Linked DNA regions of Homo sapiens. The protein of the gene in region 1 interacts with the protein of each later gene in a biochemical or structural test. Each region holds a gene or a part of one and is shown on either strand. Other genes may lie near its edges.

Region 1 (5,483 bases):
TTATAGTTTAGCATTTGTTAAAAAGAAATCAAGAAAACAATGGACACATAATTTGTTGTGTGGAGTCAGTTATCTGAAACATAGGAGAAGAATATAGATCAGGAATAGGAATGGAAAGCTGAACTGTGGTGACAGGTGTATATATGTAAGAAACTTTTTGTTTGTTGGTGTATGATTTATGACCTTTGGGAGATGTACAGCAGAAAAAAAGGAGAAATGAAGACTGGAGAAACAAAATATGTTATATATTTGCCAATAATTCACATGCTGCCTCAGTGTCCTCAGATCCCAGGCTGCACATAAGGTCCATTTGCCTGAGTATTATTACATACCTCCTTCTCCAGAAAACTTTCAAGTTCACAGCCTTGCGTTGTCCATCTTTAATACACTTAGTTGTTGGTTTTAATAATTAAGGAAACAGGACCTACCTATACCTGTGCCAACAGGGGGCACTATCCCTCTGTAAAGAACAAATCAAAAAGTATTTTGTGTTGTAGCTGGAGGATCCAATGGTCTTGCTTTTGGCAAAAACTTGAAGAGGAGGGTGGTCTTTACATGTGTGGAAACCTTGAGTGGCCGAGCAAATAGCAAGAGAAATTGCTTAGTGGCTTTTAAAATTTGAAATATAATTTTACTTTTTATTTTTACAATACAGTGTACAGTATGACATCTCAAAATAACAGTGCAGATACAGGAAAAGAGTACAAAGGGGGATTAACAACAGATGTCAGAAGGTTACCTTTATTAAGGCTAAATCCCTGCTTTATATTTTCCACACATTCACAAAATTACATTCAAATCATTCCTTATTGATCCTTATTTCTTAGGCCATGAGAAAAGGAAGATAATCCAGACATTAGATTTTCATAGAAAGCAAATCTGGATTAGTCTAAATAATATTCTCCTTCCATTTGTTCTGACAACGAAAATTTGAGAAACAAAGTTATGCACCAACCTAAAACTTCCTTATTTGGATTTTCCAAGTACATAGCATTAGTTATTGATATCATTTCTATATTAAATGGTAAGACCTCCCCCACACTGGGGTCTCCAGTCAGAACCACAGAGGGACAGGAAATGGAATTGGCCAGAGTGGCTGTACAACTAGGTGTACAGCAAGGCTTTTTTCCATATTCTTTTGTGGAGGTCAGCAACAACTCAGTTTTCACTTTAAGGACTATGTTGAATATCAGCACATCCTCATCACTAGGATTTAGAAAAGTTTAGGACATTTCTATCTACCATTGCTGATGAGGAAGGGGAGAATGATTGATAGACTTCACTGACCTTGAAATATTTATCATCTCAGACTTCCTAAAAGTATGGCATGGCATCACCTCTGCCTTGATACAAGATCTGCTTGTTAAAGCCATGTTCCTGAATCTTGACAGCACATGGCCCTAGTGCAGGCCTAATGTCTACAGCAGGCACAAGAGCCACTCACTGACACTACCTACACCCTCACTCTAACTTAACATGAACTGCCAATAGTTTAGCTCTTGGAGTTGAAAACAGTTGTCAGTTACAATAAGCAGGATCACAAAACTCCATTGTCAACCATAGACTACACTTCATTCCTGAGACGTAAACTGGAAAACTGAAAAGATTAAGTAAGTGCTAAGTATATTCCTTAGTTTTTAATGCTAAAAATCGGTGTGACCTGTGAAATTTCCTGGCTCTAAACTGGAGTATTTCAGATCTGAAGAGACAGTAGTGTATGGCATTCCTTCCCTCAACCCAAGAATGTTATTTTCTTCCTAAGGAACATTATCTTGAAAATATTTCCACATAAAACACTCTCCAGCCAACTTAATAGGCCATGCAAATTTGAACAGAAAAAGGCGACATATAAACTGTCTACATTTGTTCAAATAAAATTATGTAGAAGAAAAAAAATCAATCAAATATGTACATGACACAAATTACTCCTTAAACATAATTGCTTATGTTAAATTAAATGATGTCAGTATTATTCCAGTGTTTAGCTCTGGGTATAGGAAATGCTGTAGCTAAAGTCACCATAAAAATAAAATCAAGGCATTCACATTTGAGGTTGTTTGTTACACATCACACTATCCTAAAGGCTTGAAAAGACTGCAAATTAAGTTTCCATGCCAATTATATACGTTGAATTTTAAAGCTACAGCTATAGAGACAGTACGAAAATCCTATTAGCTTAAATGTTTCTTTTATGATTTACCAAGCTGTTGCATTCTCGTCATAAGAGGCAGACCTTGTTAGGTTAAAAACCTATTTCTATATATTTAATACCTTTTTCTCTCCAATATTCTTTTCCTAAAATGTTCAAATGACTTTCAGGTCTTCCCTTCCTTTTGATCTTAAAGTCAACTGTCATAATATTTCCCAAGGACATATATAATTTTATTCTAATGCTAAACAAGTGTTTTCAATGACCATTTGTTGATCTATTAAATATTAATATACAGTACAGCAGCTATATTCATCAACAGAATTCCAGTTTATTACCTATATATACGTAGCACAGTCATAGGATACTGTGCTCATACATAAAAATGCAAAAACTGTCAAATGTGCTATCCTCCCATGTATACAAAAAACTATTAGCATCATGAGGAAGAAACTTTTTAAGTCAATACAGATTATAATGAACACCTGCCATTCATAAAAATGTAACATACATTCTATTATACTATGCTGATGAGGGAAGGGAAGCTAAGTGAGTAAATCAGTTGAGACGACTTAAGAAAAAAATTCAGGAAATCATAATTTAAAAAAGATCAGCATATTTTGTATACCTTTAAGTAGATTAGAGTGTGTTGAGTGTAGAGTCTGATCCACAAAGTCTGAGCAAAAAAACTGGTGCTTCTAATGGAATGTTTTTTGTTTTTTTAAGAATCAAAAGACATATAAATGAATTCAAGCCTAACAAAGTAGCTTCAACCCAAAGTGGCACCATTTTGTTTTTTATTTTTCCTTTTTAGGAAAGTATCTCTGATGACTAAATTAGTTTCCTAAGCAAATACTGCCTTGCCCAGTGCATAGAAGCACAGTCCCTCTGCTCAATATTCCCAATGAAGTCATTTAAGTGTTAATGATTTAACACTTAAGAATAATCACATCAATATTTGTGTGAGACATGGACGCTTGTGTATACAAGTTTTTCACAGAGATACAACTAAGCAGAAAGGGTTTAGGTGAAAACAAAAGGTTTTAACAGGACAAAATGGAATGCTCTGTTGAAAGCTTCCATTTAGAATCCCAAAATGAGGCAAGAACCGCTAAAGCCATGTATAGAGAATAAAGGATGCCATGCACAAACTGCCTAAGGGAACTGTCGTCTCACTAATTCAAGAGATCTAAGAACAGATCTACAGCTTATACTGCTGCCTTCCATCTTATCCTCAATCTTGCTGCAGTGTCGGGCAGTCCTCCTATTGGCAGTTTTTGCCAGATCAAGTCCAACATGCCACAGAATGGATGTTTCTTTCACCTCAGCCAAGTGGATGGTACCCACTGAGGTTCAGTATCAAGTTTGTTAATTAACCTAAGCAATTCCTGATAGGCTTTATCAAGATCGGAATTCACAATTGCCGTATCAAAGTAGTGGCCATTGTTCTGCTCCATCTCTCTTGTCTTCTCAATGATTTCTCTCAACTCTTCAGGCTGCAAACAGAAGATAAAAACTGTGAGATAATTCCTTTCCTAACCAAATAATATAGGATGAGTCAGAGATGGCCAAAGAACAAGGAGCGACCTTCATAGCTTTCCTTCTGTCTCTCCCAACCTCAGGAGCTCCTTTCCAACCCTGTCACGGCCACAATGGTTACCTTTGCTTTGGCATCTTCACGACTCATATTATGAACCATCTGGGACTCAATATATCCTGTTTTATACCACTATTTAGGTTTTCACATATTTTGTCTTATCTCACCAACAAAACTACAAGCTTCAAGAACACACACTGTTTCCCTACAAACATTTGTTTTCAAACATTCTAGACACTATAACCTCTTCCTAATAGTAACATCTGTAATATGGAGTGAACCTTTCTGGTTGGAGCAAGGACCTAAAATGCCATTTACTTTTGGCTCTAGTAAAGAGCCCTTGCCCTATACTATCTGCTGCAGAGAGTTAAAAGTATCCTACCAGAGTTTGGGAAACTATATAGAGTAGCCTACTTTAAAATACTGACTGAAGGAAAGGGCCATTTTACAAAGATAAGCAGGCAGCAAGGCTATGTGCAAAACTTATCCTGAACCCTCTAATTATCAGGCACATGGGTTCAAGAAAGTGAAACTCACCTCAAATCACCCCTGCCAATGAAGACAACTAACTTAAACTCAAGACAAAATGTCTCAGATATAAAAGTCACACATCAATACTATATTGGACCCATAGTACAAAACAATTTATATCATTCAACTGTTTGAACTTCTGTAACAGTAAGAAAACATATTAAAAATATGACAACTCTGGCTTGTCCTGAGGCAGTTTCTTGCATGACTCTCATTCTGGAATGTTGTACATCTGAATATGGCACACAGAATCCTTTGTTCCCAGCAGGGAATCTACTTCACCACTGTAACTGAACACACTGACATTTTTGCTAAAACTTATGTCTACCGTAAGCTCAAGATTATTGGAAGAACATTCTAGGACTCCACAGAGAACTGAAACTTTGTGGTATTGGAGTTGAAATGAAAATGATAAAGCCCGAATCCACCTAGTTTTTATCAAATTTAAGGCATTGTTATTCCATTTTGTGCCAAAATGGCTTATATCACTTATTTAGTACTTCATGTCTGAAGTTCTCTTTCAAATTACAATCCACGACTAAGATGAAACAAAATGTTTTAGCTCAAAATTTTTAGCTGAACTAGGCAAAACTGACAATAAGTTCATACTGCTAGATAGCCACTCTCAAGCCTTCATACTAGCAGAACAGATTCAGAGATTCAGAATGCAACTAGATAACCGGTTGGTTACATTTTGTAACGCCATCATTTTCTTAGCACAATTTTATAGAGTTAAAATTGAAAATCTGTTTTACTTCAGCACTTCTATCATTGAGTAATAAAGCACTATTAGAAATACCAATACCAGCGCAGGGGCTCCCCCGCCTGTAATCTCAGCACTTTGGGAGGCCAAGGTAGGTGGATCACATGGGGCCGGGAGCTTGAGACCAGCCTGGCCAACAGGGCAAAACCCCGTCTCTATTAAAAATACAAAAAATAGCCAGGCGTGATGGTGCACATCTGTAATCCCAGCTACTTGGGAGGCTGAGGCATGAGAATCACTTAAACCCAGGAAGCAGAGGTTGCAGTGAACCAAGATTGTGCCACTGCACTCCAGCCTGGGCGACAGAGTGAGACTCTGTCTCAAAAAAAAGAAAGAAATATCACAGGAGAAAAAAACTTAAGTAGAATAAATACAATCAGATACACCATCCTCTACACCAAAAACTGTGGAATACACATCCTAACAGGTGTGCACAGAACATT
Region 2 (4,491 bases), on another chromosome or scaffold:
TGGAGCTAATGTGCCTGTGGCCTGGGAACAGCCCTCCCGGGAGCCCACTTACGCGGAGTCCGAGGAGAGCAGGAGCTGCTCCTGGCGGCCCTCGCTGTTGCGAAGCAGGGTCACCTGGAAGGGGTGGGGCACGGAGGAGCTACGGTTGCCGCCCCCGGGCAGAGGGAGCTCAGACGGCTCTATCTTCTCCACCTGGATGTGGTTCATCTGGGCGTAGTCCTGGACCATGTAGCTCTCCTCGCTGTGGAGACACGGGCAGTCGGTGGGACGGTCCCACCCAGCTCCTACCCAGTGCTGCTGGGCTCCCGTCCAGGTCCCACCCGGCTCCCCTGCAGTGGTGGGGAGGCAGCCACGGACGGGCTCCAAGAGTTCCCGCGTCCCACAGAACAGAGGCCATGGCTTTCGAGTCCTCCTCGTGGCTATCACCGGCAGACCCAGGTCTGCAGAGGAGGTCAGAGGCTGCACAGCGAGCGCCACCTGCCCCCGAGTGTCACGTAGAGCATGTGCCGAGTGGAAGCCGCGCCTCGGCTCTGAGGTCAGAGGGGCTCAGGGCCAACTCCCTGTACCCTCCTGCCCCAGGGCCAGCGGTCCAGTGTCCATGGAGTGGGGCTCCCCACACCCTCCTGCCCTAAGGCCACCTCTTCTTCTTGGTCACAACCAGGACATCGTTGAACAGGAAAAGGTAGCACGTTGGCCGGCTGGCAATTTTTCGAAAAAGTCCGGTTTCTTCCACTAAGAACAGCTCTCCGCGCTTCAGCAGCCACCGGGAGGCAGAGATCAGTGGGAGGGACTGGGGGGACAGAGCCGGGAGGCGGAGATCAGTGCGAGGGACTGGGGGGGACAGAGCCGGGGTGAGCAGGTCCCCAGGGGGTCAAGGACGCATAGCACCAGGTGGGACTGACTCCTGCCTCTGGACTGGGTGACCAGCTGGCTGCCCTCAGTCGGGGCTGGACAGAGGAAAGGGGCACAATGTGTCCGGGCCTCAAATCGAGGTGCGCCAGGCCGGACCAGACCCTGCCCGATAGCCCAGGGCTGGGTGACCACTGAACATTTCACCCAAGCCAGGACTCGAAGGCCAGTGCTGGGGAAGCCTCCACACACACCTCACCCCTCCGTGGCAATTACGCAGACGCTGGGCCTCCTAGGCACAAGGACCTGCTCAGCCCCGAGGGAGGGTTGGCAGGGGCAGGCCCACCCGTGATGGCCACGCTCCACGTCTGGGGCCTTTCCTGGCTCCTGAGCCACAGAACATCCTCCCTGCTGCCTGGTGCTGAGTTGCTGGAGTCAGTGGGGGGCAGAAGGATGGCAAAGGCCAGAGGGTGGGCAGTGTGGGGGTGATGGGGTGGGTAGTGTGGGGGTGACGGGGATGGGTGTCGCAGTAGGGGGTGGCAGTACAGGGTGGGGGGGAGGGCAGAGTGGGAATGAGGAGCCTGCCCACCAGCTCCCGCTCCTCAGCGACTGTTGACACCTCCTCACCTGCTCCCTGTGGGCCCCGGCTTCCCCACCTGTGCCCACTACAGACTCAGAGCCCCCGGCACCTCCCGCTCCCGGCCTCTGCCACCACCCTCCCTCCTGGATGGGCCTGTTCTCCCCACCCCCACACCCGTTTCCAAGACCAACTTCAAGACCATGTGGGGGTGAGAGCCCCACTCAGGGGTGGACCAGGCCTGGGAGGGGGTCCTTGCTCTGGCAGGGGCAGGCGTTACACCCCAGACTCGAGAGGATCAGGGAGACAAGCGTGAGGGCTGCACGGGTGTGGGCTCAGCGACAGCGGCGCGAAGTCACCGCCCTGACGCCTGCCCCAGGCAGCCCGCCCTGACCCACCCCGGGAGCCCCCTCCCCCAGCTGGGACCCCGCACCCTTACTTGGTTGTCCGTGGCCCTGAGTGAGGGTGGCTGGTGGCCTGTCACCCACTTCTTGCTCCACCCTGAAGGACACCCCCTGGATGGGGCACCAGGACAGGAGACCCACCTGGGCCCGCCTTAGGGGAGGGGCCCTGGGCTGTCCCAGGACAACAGAGGATGCGGCCAGTGTGTGGGATCGTGGGTGGGGGGCTCTGGAGGGAGAGGTATGAGCCCTGCCCGTTTGTGGCAGGGACTAGGGCTGCCCGGGCCTGGGCTGGAAATATTTCACCCTACCCAGAATCCAAGCCTCACTGGGAAACATGGAATCTGGGCTGGCCCTGAAATCACCCTGTCCCCTCCGCTCTGTCCTCAGGCCCTGCCCAGCCCCTGAGGGGCCAGCAAGGAGCGCTGGCCCCAGGCAAGTGCACTGACAGGGCCACTCCTGTTGCCCCCTGGGCTTGGTCACTCAGGGCCTAGGGTCTACCCTTTGCCGGTGCAGTCCTGGGGATGGGGCAAGGGCCACAGAGGCCCACCCAGTGGGATTAGGGGAGGGGTCCACAAGGGGCGCTCCCAGATCGGGAGACTGAGGCCTGGAGAGACCAGAGCCACCAGCCCTAGGAGGCCCAGCCCCCAGGCCTCATGAGGGCAGGCACCCACTCTCCAGCCCTCAGGCTCAGGGGTGTGACCTCACACGCAGGCCAGCAGGGAGGGCTGAGTGGGAAGTGGTCCGAGTGGCCCTGATGTCCGGGGCCACCTACCTTGACCTTGCTGAAGTCCAGCTGTGTGTGCAGCGTGTACATCTGCTCCATGCGCTCCATCCTGTGGGCCCCCTCGTTGCACTGCCTCACCAGCTGCAGGGCATGGTTCCCGTGTGAGAGGCTGGTGCTACAGGGCCCTGGCACAGCCCACACGGCCCACAGTGTGCCCAGGACACCTGCCCAGCCAGCCTCTGGCTGCCCACAGTGCCTGCCCTGGACCAGCCGTGCCACGGGCTCATCAACTGTGTGAGAGCTCCACTGGCTCTAGGCCTCAGTTTCCCTGTCAGCACTGTGAAAGGCTTGGGATGGATAATCTGGGAACCTCTGGGCCTCAGTTTCCCTGTCAGCGCTGTGAAAGGCCTGGGATGGATAATCTGGGAACCTCTGGGCCTCAGTTTCCCTGTCAGCGCTGTGAAAGGCCTGGGATGGATAATCTGGGAACCTCTGGGCCTCAGTTTCCCTGTCAGCGCTGTGAAAGGCCTGGGATGGATAATCTGGGAACCTCTGGGCCTCAGTTTCCCTGTCAGCGCTGTGAAAGGCCTGGGATGGATAATCTGGGAACCTCTGGGCCTCAGTTTCCCTGTCAGCGCTGTGAAAGGCCTGGGATGGATAATCTGGGAACCTCTGGGCCTCAGTTTCCCTGTCAGCGCTGTGAAAGGCCTGGGATGGATAATCTGGGAACCTCTGGGCCTCAGTTTCCCTGTCAGCGCCGTGAAAGGCCTGGGATGGATAATCTGGGAACCTCTGGGCCTCAGTTTCCCTGTCAGCGCCGTGAAAGGCCTGGGATGGATAATCTGGGAACCTCTGGGCCTCAGTTTCCCTGTCAGCGCCGTGAAAGGCCTGGGATGGATAATCTGGGAACCTCTGGGCCTCAGTTTCCCTGTCAGCGCCGTGAAAGGCCTGGGATGGATAATCTGGGAACCTCTGGGCCTCAGTTTCCCTGTCAGCGCCGTGAAAGGCCTGGGATGGATAATCTGGGAACCTCTGGGCCTCAGTTTCCCTGTCAGCGCTGTGAAAGGCTTGGGATGGATAATCTGGGAACCTCTGGGCCTCAGTTTCCCTGTCAGCGCTGTGAAAGGCTTGGGATGGATAATCTGGGAACCTCTGGGCCTCAGTTTCCCTGTCAGCGCTGTGAAAGGCTTGGGATGGATAATCTGAGAACACTCGCTGCCCTGGAAGGTAGGGGAAGCCAGCCCTATGCCATCGGGTAGGGTGGGGTTGGGTGGGGACAGGGTCGGGGTACAGGACTCGGGTAGGGCTGGGGCCAGGCCCCATCTTACCTTGCTGATGGCCTTCAGTGCACGGCTGGCAGCCTTGTACCTTTCGGAGTGGCCCTGGGTCTTGAGGCAGAGCGTCTGGATGGACAACAGACATGGGACAGAAAGTCCCCTCTGGCATCCCAGGTGTGGAGGCTCCCACCAACGCCAGACCCCGTGTGGGGCTGCAGGGTGGTCAACAGCTGCCCCCAGGGGGCTCCTGCAGGGCCCCACAGCACGTACAGCCCCTGAACGGCCTCTGCACCACCTGGAGCTCTGCCAGGTCAGGCCAGGTTGAGTGGGAACAGGAGCTAGCACCCCTGCCTGGAACCCTTCCCTTCCCATCCTCGGCCATCTCCATCCAACTTGGGGAATCGTCAGTGGAGGCCCCCTGGCAGCCCCATTTCTGCACATCCCTGGGGCCCCCAGGAGTTTGAGGTTCTGTTTGGCTTGGGCAACCCTGCCATGTGTAGCCTCAGGAAGCTTAGCTCAGTCCTGCCATGTGCGGGGCTGTGTGTATGGGCAGCATGCACATGTGTGAATATGCCTGTGCACCATGTGCATGCATGTGTGTGCATCCACGTGTATGTGTGTGCACCGGGTGCATGTGTGTGCAGTGCCTGTGTGTGCATG
Region 3 (4,491 bases), on another chromosome or scaffold:
CAATATTGGTCCAGACTTGGAAGAAACAGGCTATATTCAGACATCAATGCTCATAAAAAGCTATGAGCGTAGCTGGCTGGTACACACCAGCTACCCTAGTTGTGCTACTCCAGGAGATTTCAGCTGCTTGGAATCAATTTCATTTGAAACACGTGACTCTTAGAGTGCAATTTTTTTTGAAGCAGCAACTTTTCTGGCAAAGTGAAGTACTTTTCCAAACACCAGATCCATATACTAAATGCCTAATTCAATGCCATGGAACAGATCTAAGCTTGTAGGGAGATTTTAGAGGAGGAGCCAGTGGAGAAAAATAGGAGACAGGAAAGGATATCAGGTGACTTGAGGTGGAGGTGGGGAGGACAGCGTCTTGTTGACTGTGGAATCTCTGATAGAAATAGGTGGGGCACTTACGATCACTAGAAAGGCTGGATATAGTTTACTTGGAGCTTGTAAAGTAGAGCCACAGAAATGAGCCATCATCACATGGAATGAGTTTTGAAATGTCAGAAGGCTAGCACAAAATTATTGAGACACTGTTTAAACCATTCATTCTCTGGGCACTTTGGTGTTCTCATCTACAAAAATAGGAGTTTAGGTATATGAAAATGTACAATACCTAGAACAAACCAATTCTGAAAAAAAGAATCAAGTGGGGGACTTTCATCTCCCAATTTCAAAAACTACTGTAAAGCTATAGTTATCAAGATAGTGTGGTACTTGCATAGGATAGACACATAAATAAATAGAACAGAAGTGAGAGTCCAGAAATAAACCCTTGCATTTGTGGTCAATTGATTTTTGACAAAGGTGCCAACACGATTCACTGGGGAAAGGATAGCTGTTTTGAAAAATGGCTCTAGATCCGGGCGCGGTGGCTCATGCCTATAATCCTATCGCTTTGGGAAGCTGAGGCGGGCGGATTGCCTGACCTCAGGAATTCGAGACCAGCCTGGGCAAAATGGTGAAACTCCGTCTCTACTAAATTACAAAAAATTAGTCAAGCATGGTATCATGCACCAGTAGTCCCAGCTACTTGGGAGGCTGAGGCAGGAGAATTACTTGAACCCAGGAGGCAGAGGTTGCAGTGAGCCGAGATCATGCCACTGCACTCCAGCCTAGGCGACAGAACAAGACTCCGTCTCCAAGAAAATAAAAAAAATAAACAAATAAATAAATTAAAATGGTGGTGAGATAATTAGATATCCACAGGCAAAAAGATAAACTTAGACTCTTACCTTAGACCCTCACACTATACGTAAAAATTAACTCAAAGTAGATCATACACTTAAATGTATTAATAAGAGCTAAAACAATACAAACTTTAGAAGAAAACTTAGGAGCAAATTTTTAAGATCTCAGATTAGGCAAAGATTTCTTACAGATGGCACCAAAAGCATGGTCCATAAAGAAAAAAACTGATCAATTGGACCGCCTTAGAATTCAATACTTTTGTATTTCAAAGATACCACTAAGAAAATGAAAAGACCAGCAAGAGACTGGGAGAAAATATTTGCAAATCACATATCTGACAAAGTTCCTGTTTCTCAGCCCAGGCCTGCTTTGAGAAAGAGGTTCTAGTGGTGGTGGCAAGGGTGGGGTGTTGTGGGGTGGGGTGTCACACTTTTTACTTATAGCTTCAATGTACCACAAGAACTCTGAGACTGACTTAGGCCTTGTCTGAAGTATGAAAGTGCGAGAAGGTGCCATGCAGGCCAACACTGGATAGGGTAAAATTAACGGGTTCAGGGGAACCAGGTTAGGAACACCAAAAACAAATAGAGGGATGTTTGATACTTTGCAACTTTGTCAAGTGAAAACAGATCTGAAGCCACTACTGAAACCTGGTTAAACTTTCACAGACAGAACAAAGGTGGGCGATTTGCTAAATTGAGTCAACATAATCTGTTGTCAGTAACAGTAACACAGGTAGCTGTGTTTACACAGAAATCCACAGGTCTGGATTTGAAGGCAGCTCAAGTTTAGGATGCCAGTGCAGTCATCCAAAATTTGGCACACACTGTCCCGCTAGACTAGTCTTGGGGCCAATGCATTTTACTTCCAGTGGGTCCCTTTCTTTCTGTTGCTTGTCTGAGAGGTAGAGAATGTAGGAATACGTATGTGTATTGTGATAGTGTGTTTGCATGTAGGGAAGGGAGTTTCTTTTCCTTACTTGTATTGCCCTGGGTGTTCATCTCTTCTGGTGTTGAAGTCCAGAGAAATTTTAGCATCCAGTCCAATTCCGAAGTAGTTGTTCATGACACATTTTTCTTTGAAGCGTCTGAAATTATTCAAAGAAGAGGACAGACATTGGTGCAGGAAAGAAGTGCCGCTATCAATTGGGCATGAAGATGAATCTGCATGATGGAAAACCAGTGAGGGAAGGCCCCCTCCACACTGGGCACTAACTATAACATTTTTGAGAGGCACATGTAGATATCCTTTTGTGTGAACAACTAGCTTATTAGCTGTAAGAGGGAGTGCCTCGCCAGTTGGGAAGCTTCAGTGGGATTGGAACTCATAATAAAGAAGCAACATTGATGATTTTAGTCATCTTTGGAGGCCTTATGTATGAGTGGCCCATATTTTCTTCATATGTAGTATTAAGGGAAATACTGTTTACTCCTATAAAGAACTTTTGAATATCCTAGACACAAACGTGCCATGACAGTTAAGTCTGCACAACTGCTCTCAGTGATGTCCGACATCAAAGGGGAAAATGACCACACATTTGGAAGGAAAGACTGATAAAAGAGGGTAGATATGTACATAACAAAAAAGCCAAATTATTTGTCAAGTCTCCTGTGTCCATCTAGGGTGTCAGCATCAAAACCAGTGGTGTGCCATAGCCAGTTGGCACCAGCTCATGTAAACTGATTATGCATATCTCTTTCCAACTCCAGATTCAATGGCATTATATCACTAACTTAAATAGGCCATGGTGGAAGGGTTTACACCATAAATGAATCAGGGCTTTCTCCCCCAAGAGAGGAGGTTGTTAAACACTTTGCCAGTGCACTATTGATCAAAATTCATTAGGTAGATCCATGAGAGCTCAGACATAAATTTGAGCCAATGGTGAAGTGTGGGGGCAAGAATGCGGGTTGGAGACAGGAATAAAAATTGTTTTCTTAAATAAATTATTTAAGAAAACATAAATAATTTCTAGCTGTGTCCTTTTGAGAAATTAAATGGATACAGTTTAGCTGTTTAATCTTAGATTACTTTTTTATTCATTACCATACTGACCTTACATCTCTCACATGAGATTTGCCTCCCTCAACCACAGTCCAGAGATTGGAGTTTCTCTAACTAATGTCCAAACTGATCTTCTTAATGGAACTCAGAATGAGTGAGTGTGGCAGAACTTGGCTGCTGCCGATATTCTAAAGAGGGAGAACTGGTGAGACAGATGTCCTTAGATTTGCTGCCTAGTCCCCTAGTGACCATTTTAGTTTTTAGTATCTTCAACCATTTACTGTTAAGGGCAACAGTGAAAAAAAGCAAGTCCTCTGTAATAACAACAACTAACATTTATTAATTATTTATAATAATAACAATAATAACTGCAAATGCATATAACACTTAATTATGGGTGCCAAGCACTACTCAGTGCAAGTACTTTTCATATATAAATGTAATAAATACAGCAAACCCATGATGCAAGTTCTACAATGGTCTTCATTTTACATATGAGAAAACTGAGGCTCACACTGGTTTAGTCACTTGCGTAGGTGACACAGCTAGTAAGTAAGAGAAAGGATTTGACTATGGATATCCTAAGATTGTGCTCTTAACAAGAGAAAGAAAGAAGCCATTAAAAGGTGATAGAGTTAAATACTTACATAGATTCAGGTGTAAAATGTAAGTGATCCAAGTTAAGGTTGTCCAGGTCCTCACTTTTGAGAGAAGATATAGAAGACAAAGTGCCACGACGAGAACCTAGACACAAAAGACATCACTTGGGTGACGGATACAAACAAAAAAGCCCTTTCCCCTCACTTGTATTTCGCCCTATTTTCTCTGTGGAGGCAGGGTCAAGCTCAGTGACTTTCTCCTAGATAATATTAAGGGTTCTAATTCCAAAGAGGGATCCTCTTGGATGGATAGGGACTTCCACTGAGAGAAGAATAAAGCTGGGCTGCTTGCTTGCTGGCAGTGAAAACAACTTCAAATCTTGTATTTCATCAGGCCAGCCTCTTCAATGTTCCTAATGGGGTCATTACTCTGGACATTGGCATGGGATCTTATAGTGTGAGTTTCTGGGAAAGACGGAGGGGTATCTACTGCAGGATTATGGCTAAAAGAGGATGCATAAAAAATACATATTTATTCTTTGGGAGCTAAACAACAGTGACGAAGGCTAGAATAAGGGAAGAAGACAGAAAGATCCTTACGGCGTCGTGGGCTTGTCTGGTTAATATCTTCTGGGTCATCTTCCAGGAAGAAAGTTGAACTAAAGTTCTTAACAGATATTGTCTGTCTGCTTTCCTC
Region 4 (4,491 bases), on another chromosome or scaffold:
ATAAAGTATAGGATGTGATGACTGAAATTACAAGGAAATACAGAAACATTTGGGGACATCCATTGTCTTTCTGACATCTTCCCACTATGCCTGAGGAATTTCCGGATTTAGAAGCTGCAATTCCCACACAAGTGCAGTTGTAAAATATCTGTAACACGATAGGGAAAAGTCCAATTATTTCAGTAACATTTAAATAAAGTTAAAGACAGTTATGTTAAAAATGTTTACCGTAGCCATGCATTATGTAAACAATGAGGAAATATTCTTTTATTTTTTTGTATTACAGTATATTGAGCAAAGCAAAATCTATATAGATACAACATTTCATTATCTAAAGAGCAGATGACTATCTACAAACTACTAATCCTGTACAACAATCTCCCAGCAAATCCTGCCTAATCTAACCATACCTTACCTCCTTCGCTACCACTTCCAATGCTAAGTAACCATGATTTCTTGCCTAGATTGTTACAATGCTCCCTTTATGCGCAACTTGTTTCCAATCTTATCTAGCTAGTATCTGCTTTCCACCCAGTAAGTAAAGTGAACCTTTAAACATGGCAGTCAGACTGCATCACTACCCTCAACCTGCCAGTGGTTTCTCATCATACTTGCATGAAACCCCACATCCTTATAACAGTTTACACTTTCTCCATCATGTAGCACCTGGATGCCACTCTAATCTCACCATTCAGTGATCTTCCCTCTCTTCTTCTGTGTAAGCCACACACATGACCCTTGCAAAGGCCCCATTTTGCCCTTTCCAAACATCCCCTCAAACCTGGCAAGTTCATCCATGCCTCACGGCCCTGCTATTTTCTCTGCCCGGGCAGCTCTTCTCTTCGGTGATTACACAGCTGGCGTCCATACTTTAGTTCTCCGTTTAGAGGTTTTAATAGAGACCTTCTATGACTATCCATTTAAAAAAAAAAACAAAAAAAAACAACTCCCATCTCTCCATCTTCTTATTCTAATGTATGTCTTTTTTTTACAGTGCTTCTTACTACCTATCAGGATATCCTGTATTTACTTATTTTTAAAACATACTTTCCCAACAGAATGTAACCTCCATGAAAGCAGAAACTGCTGCTTTGTTATTATGCAACTGGGGAATGGAATAGACTCTCATTTTAGGCATTTGATAAAACTTAGTTAAGTAAATGGGAACAATTTGAGGATATGACATAATTTACAGTGGCTATGAGAAAAAAATAATTCTGGTGCATAAAACTCAACTAAATTTTGACTGAAGAGAGACAATTTGTATAACCCCTCAATAGTTTATTTCTGTAAATTTTATTTATGAATGCATATATATAATGTTATCATTTTTAATCACAAAAGAGTTTGTGAGTTTTTAGACCATAAATAAAGCTGGCATTTACTTTTCTAGAAAGAGTGGCAATATAGATTTTTTGTAATGTCAAGTTGAAACCTTTGAATCTTAATTCTGGTCGCTCACTAGATAAATGAGTTAAGCAAGTCCTTTGTATCTCAGTGCCTCAGTTCTCACATGAAGAAAATACTGAAAATAATGCAAATTATTTCAGGACCATGAGATTTAAATGTAATTTTGTTCTTTTAACACCAATCTTTAACCTTTCCTTGTAATGTCTTTTATAAATGGTAGCTCTCATTACAAAAAAACCTTCATGCAGCTGTGAGCAAAAATAACAGTAGCTGAAAGAAAAATAACAAAGGAAGAAAGCAAAGAAAAGAAAAAAAGAGAAGCATGAAAACATGTTTCAGATGAGTAGGTAGTCTTATTCATTGTTGCTAGAAACCAATCCTTTCTGCTGTAAATAAGTCAAAATAATAATACAATGAACAGAGTAAATTAACAAACTTAACTGTATATCTGTGGATATACAGCCTAAGTATTCATATCCAGTTGATAAGGATATATAAATAAATGAGATACATGGGTGGTCTAATTTTCTGCCCTCTAGGATTGTCAAATAAAGGCAAATTTAATCAGTCACAAATAGAAAGCAGTCTCAGAGAGCAAGGATAAGGAAGAGTCTGTTTGGGACAGGAATGGAAAGGTGTGCTGAGAAGGGTGAATCTGTTAATGATTGAAGTACTTTACATCCTTCACAATTGCTTTCTGTTAAGGATTGAATATTTTCCCAAAATTCATATGTTGAAATCCTAACCTTCAATGTGATGGTATTTGGAGTAAAGCATTTAGGAGGTAATTAGTTCATGAGGGTGTAGCCCTCATGAATGTGATTTTAGTGCCCTTATAAGAAGAGACAGGAGACCTGTCTCTCCCTGTCTGCTCTCTGCCATGTGAGGATAAAAGGTGAAGATGGTCATCTGCAAACCAGAAAGTGGGTCCTCACTAGGAACCAGTTCTGCTGGCACCTTGATCTTGGACTTCCCATCATCCAGAACTATGAGAAATAAATGTTTGTTGTTTAAGCCACCCATTCTATGGTATATTTGTTATAGCAGCCTGGACTGACTAAAATAGATTCCTACCTATATTTCCTACCTCATCTCCCTCTTCTGCCCTATGGAAACCCTCCATTCCAGCCCACCTGCCCTTTCATTATTATACAAATTGGCTTGATTTTCCAAAGTTGTCCTAGAACCATCAACCTCCTCATTATCAGATCCCTGACCCCAAGGTCTAGAATCTCTGGAGCTAAGCCTCCTAATACTGGCCTCTATTTGTTCATTCCCTAAAACCTCCAAGGACCACGGATCTTAGGGCCAGGGGACATGGATCTGAAAGCATATCTTATTATGATGATCATACGACAGACATTCTAATTCAGGGCTAACACTTCTTATAAGCAAAATGAGAGAAATAGACTACATAATTACAAAATCTCTTCCACCCTATTTGATGACTCTAATTCTCACCCTAATTTTTTCAGCAACTCCAGTACCACTAGGAATGGTTATAACATTTTCTTTTTCTACAAAAAAGGACCAGGCAGAGGTAAGAGGCAAGCCTCCTACTAGTAGTGGTCTGCTGTGAGCCCCCATAGAGTTTTGTTGTTTATATTGTAACAGGACCATCGCCATATACTTGAGAGGTGATTTCTTACAATATTTTTTCCACTCCTGTTGGAGGTTTGACAACCAGCAAGACAAGCTGATACATATGTGATTCCATTTTCACCGCACATGGGTTCCCATTTTGTCTCTGAACATTTGCATCTTGAGTTGCAATCTGAAAAGAGAGCTCGTTCATGATAAGAGACAGGTTTGGTTCTGAAAAGAAATATAACAATATAAAATATTACCTCTTAGCAGGTAGCACCCGAATATTTTCAAAAAATCAATGTTCTTGAGTGATATAAATGATACTATGAACAAAATTTGCCTTTTAGAAACACAGTTGTCATCAGAAATGGCAGCTTCTGGTCATGAAATGTGAGTTTACTAATAAACAGCTTTCTCTTGAAAGTTATCTTTAGAGGTTTACAAATTCACATGATGTCCAGTTCTTAGCTTATAGCTTTCAGTCTACAGCCTCTAGGATCTTCTAATATACTTCTGTGCAAAGGTGTATAAAAATAGCTAACAAGGTAGAAAAGTAAACTTTTAGAGCAATTTATGACACTACTTCAATGCATCACAGGTGGGGTGTGTGTGTGTGTTGTGTGTGTGCAAATTTCATTCAGAATTGTTGTCTAAGTATGAGTGGAATGGATATTACTAATGGTCCAGTAAAAGGAAAAATAGCCAATCAGTTATCAGTTAATTCTCTTTCAGTGTTTGCAGGAGTTACATGTCCTCTTGCATGTGTGTAACCAACAAGTGCATTCCCAGTTCATTCAACCTTTCTCCTGTGTATCCTCCCAGTGTATAGTGCTCTTTCATATCTTATAGCATCCTTTCTTACTCAAATTCACAAGTAAGTTCAATGACTTACCCATTTATTTGTTGATAAAATTTTACTGGAAGCCTACTAAGTGCTAGCTCCGGGAGAATAGGAGATGGTTACAAACATTAATGAGACAAAATTTGCACCCCCCCCCAAAATTGGTTTTTTTGAGTTATTTCACAAAATTGTGATTGCATTCTTTCTTTTCTCCTTCATTTTTTTTTGTTCTCTGCCATTCGCTTTTATATTTATCCTTCATCTCTCCCAGTATTCTCTCTCCCTCACTTTTTTTTCTGTCACCTGAATGGCCTAATCCTTCTGCTTTTATCCTTTTTTTTGCTATTCATATTCCTCTACTCTTCTCAAAAGGAACTTTTGCAATGGTATGTCATTTCTATCTGCACCATATGTGCCATTCATTGGCCCTCCATACTTCATTTTTTCTGCTCCTTATTTTCAAATTTATTTATTTGCTTATTCCTCATATCTTTCCTCCCATTTTTTATAAAGATAGCTGAGGAGCTTAAACAAACAAAAAATACACTGAACTGTACAATCAAGAGAGGCAGGAACTATTTTTGTATTCACTCCCATATGTCCAGAACCAGGAATAATTCCTGTCACACAGCAAGCTAAGAAACAAAATTTCC

The links.
Region 2: the proteins of PALS1 (region 1) and ARHGEF16 interact in a test that uses a peptide from one of them, tested with the Homo sapiens proteins (one large-scale study listed by IntAct).
Region 3: the proteins of PALS1 (region 1) and DGKK interact in a test that uses a peptide from one of them, tested with the Homo sapiens proteins (one large-scale study listed by IntAct).
Region 4: the proteins of PALS1 (region 1) and SLCO1C1 interact in a test that uses a peptide from one of them, tested with the Homo sapiens proteins (one large-scale study listed by IntAct).

What each region holds. Positions count from the first base shown.
Region 1 is NC_000014.9:67,330,942-67,336,424, reverse strand, and holds the end of PALS1 (protein PALS1), read right to left. Parts: intron 3,646-5,483; coding exon 3,469-3,645; 3' UTR 364-3,468; downstream 1-363. UniProt on the Homo sapiens protein: Plays a role in tight junction biogenesis and in the establishment of cell polarity in epithelial cells.
Region 2 is NC_000001.11:3,474,174-3,478,664, reverse strand, and holds part of ARHGEF16 (rho guanine nucleotide exchange factor 16), read right to left. Parts: intron 3,958-4,491; coding exon 3,883-3,957; intron 2,696-3,882; coding exon 2,603-2,695; intron 791-2,602; coding exon 639-790; intron 242-638; coding exon 53-241; intron 1-52. UniProt on the Homo sapiens protein: Guanyl-nucleotide exchange factor of the RHOG GTPase stimulating the exchange of RHOG-associated GDP for GTP. May play a role in chemotactic cell migration by mediating the activation of RAC1 by EPHA2.
Region 3 is NC_000023.11:50,380,326-50,384,816, forward strand, and holds part of DGKK (diacylglycerol kinase kappa), read right to left. Parts: coding exon 4,395-4,491; intron 3,940-4,394; coding exon 3,843-3,939; intron 2,279-3,842; coding exon 2,171-2,278; intron 1-2,170. UniProt on the Homo sapiens protein: Diacylglycerol kinase that converts diacylglycerol/DAG into phosphatidic acid/phosphatidate/PA and regulates the respective levels of these two bioactive lipids.
Region 4 is NC_000012.12:20,735,841-20,740,331, reverse strand, and holds part of SLCO1C1 (solute carrier organic anion transporter family member 1C1), read right to left. Parts: intron 3,226-4,491; coding exon 3,060-3,225; intron 149-3,059; coding exon 1-148. UniProt on the Homo sapiens protein: Mediates the Na(+)-independent high affinity transport of organic anions such as the thyroid hormones L-thyroxine (T4), L-thyroxine sulfate (T4S), and 3,3',5'-triiodo-L-thyronine (reverse T3, rT3) at the plasma membrane.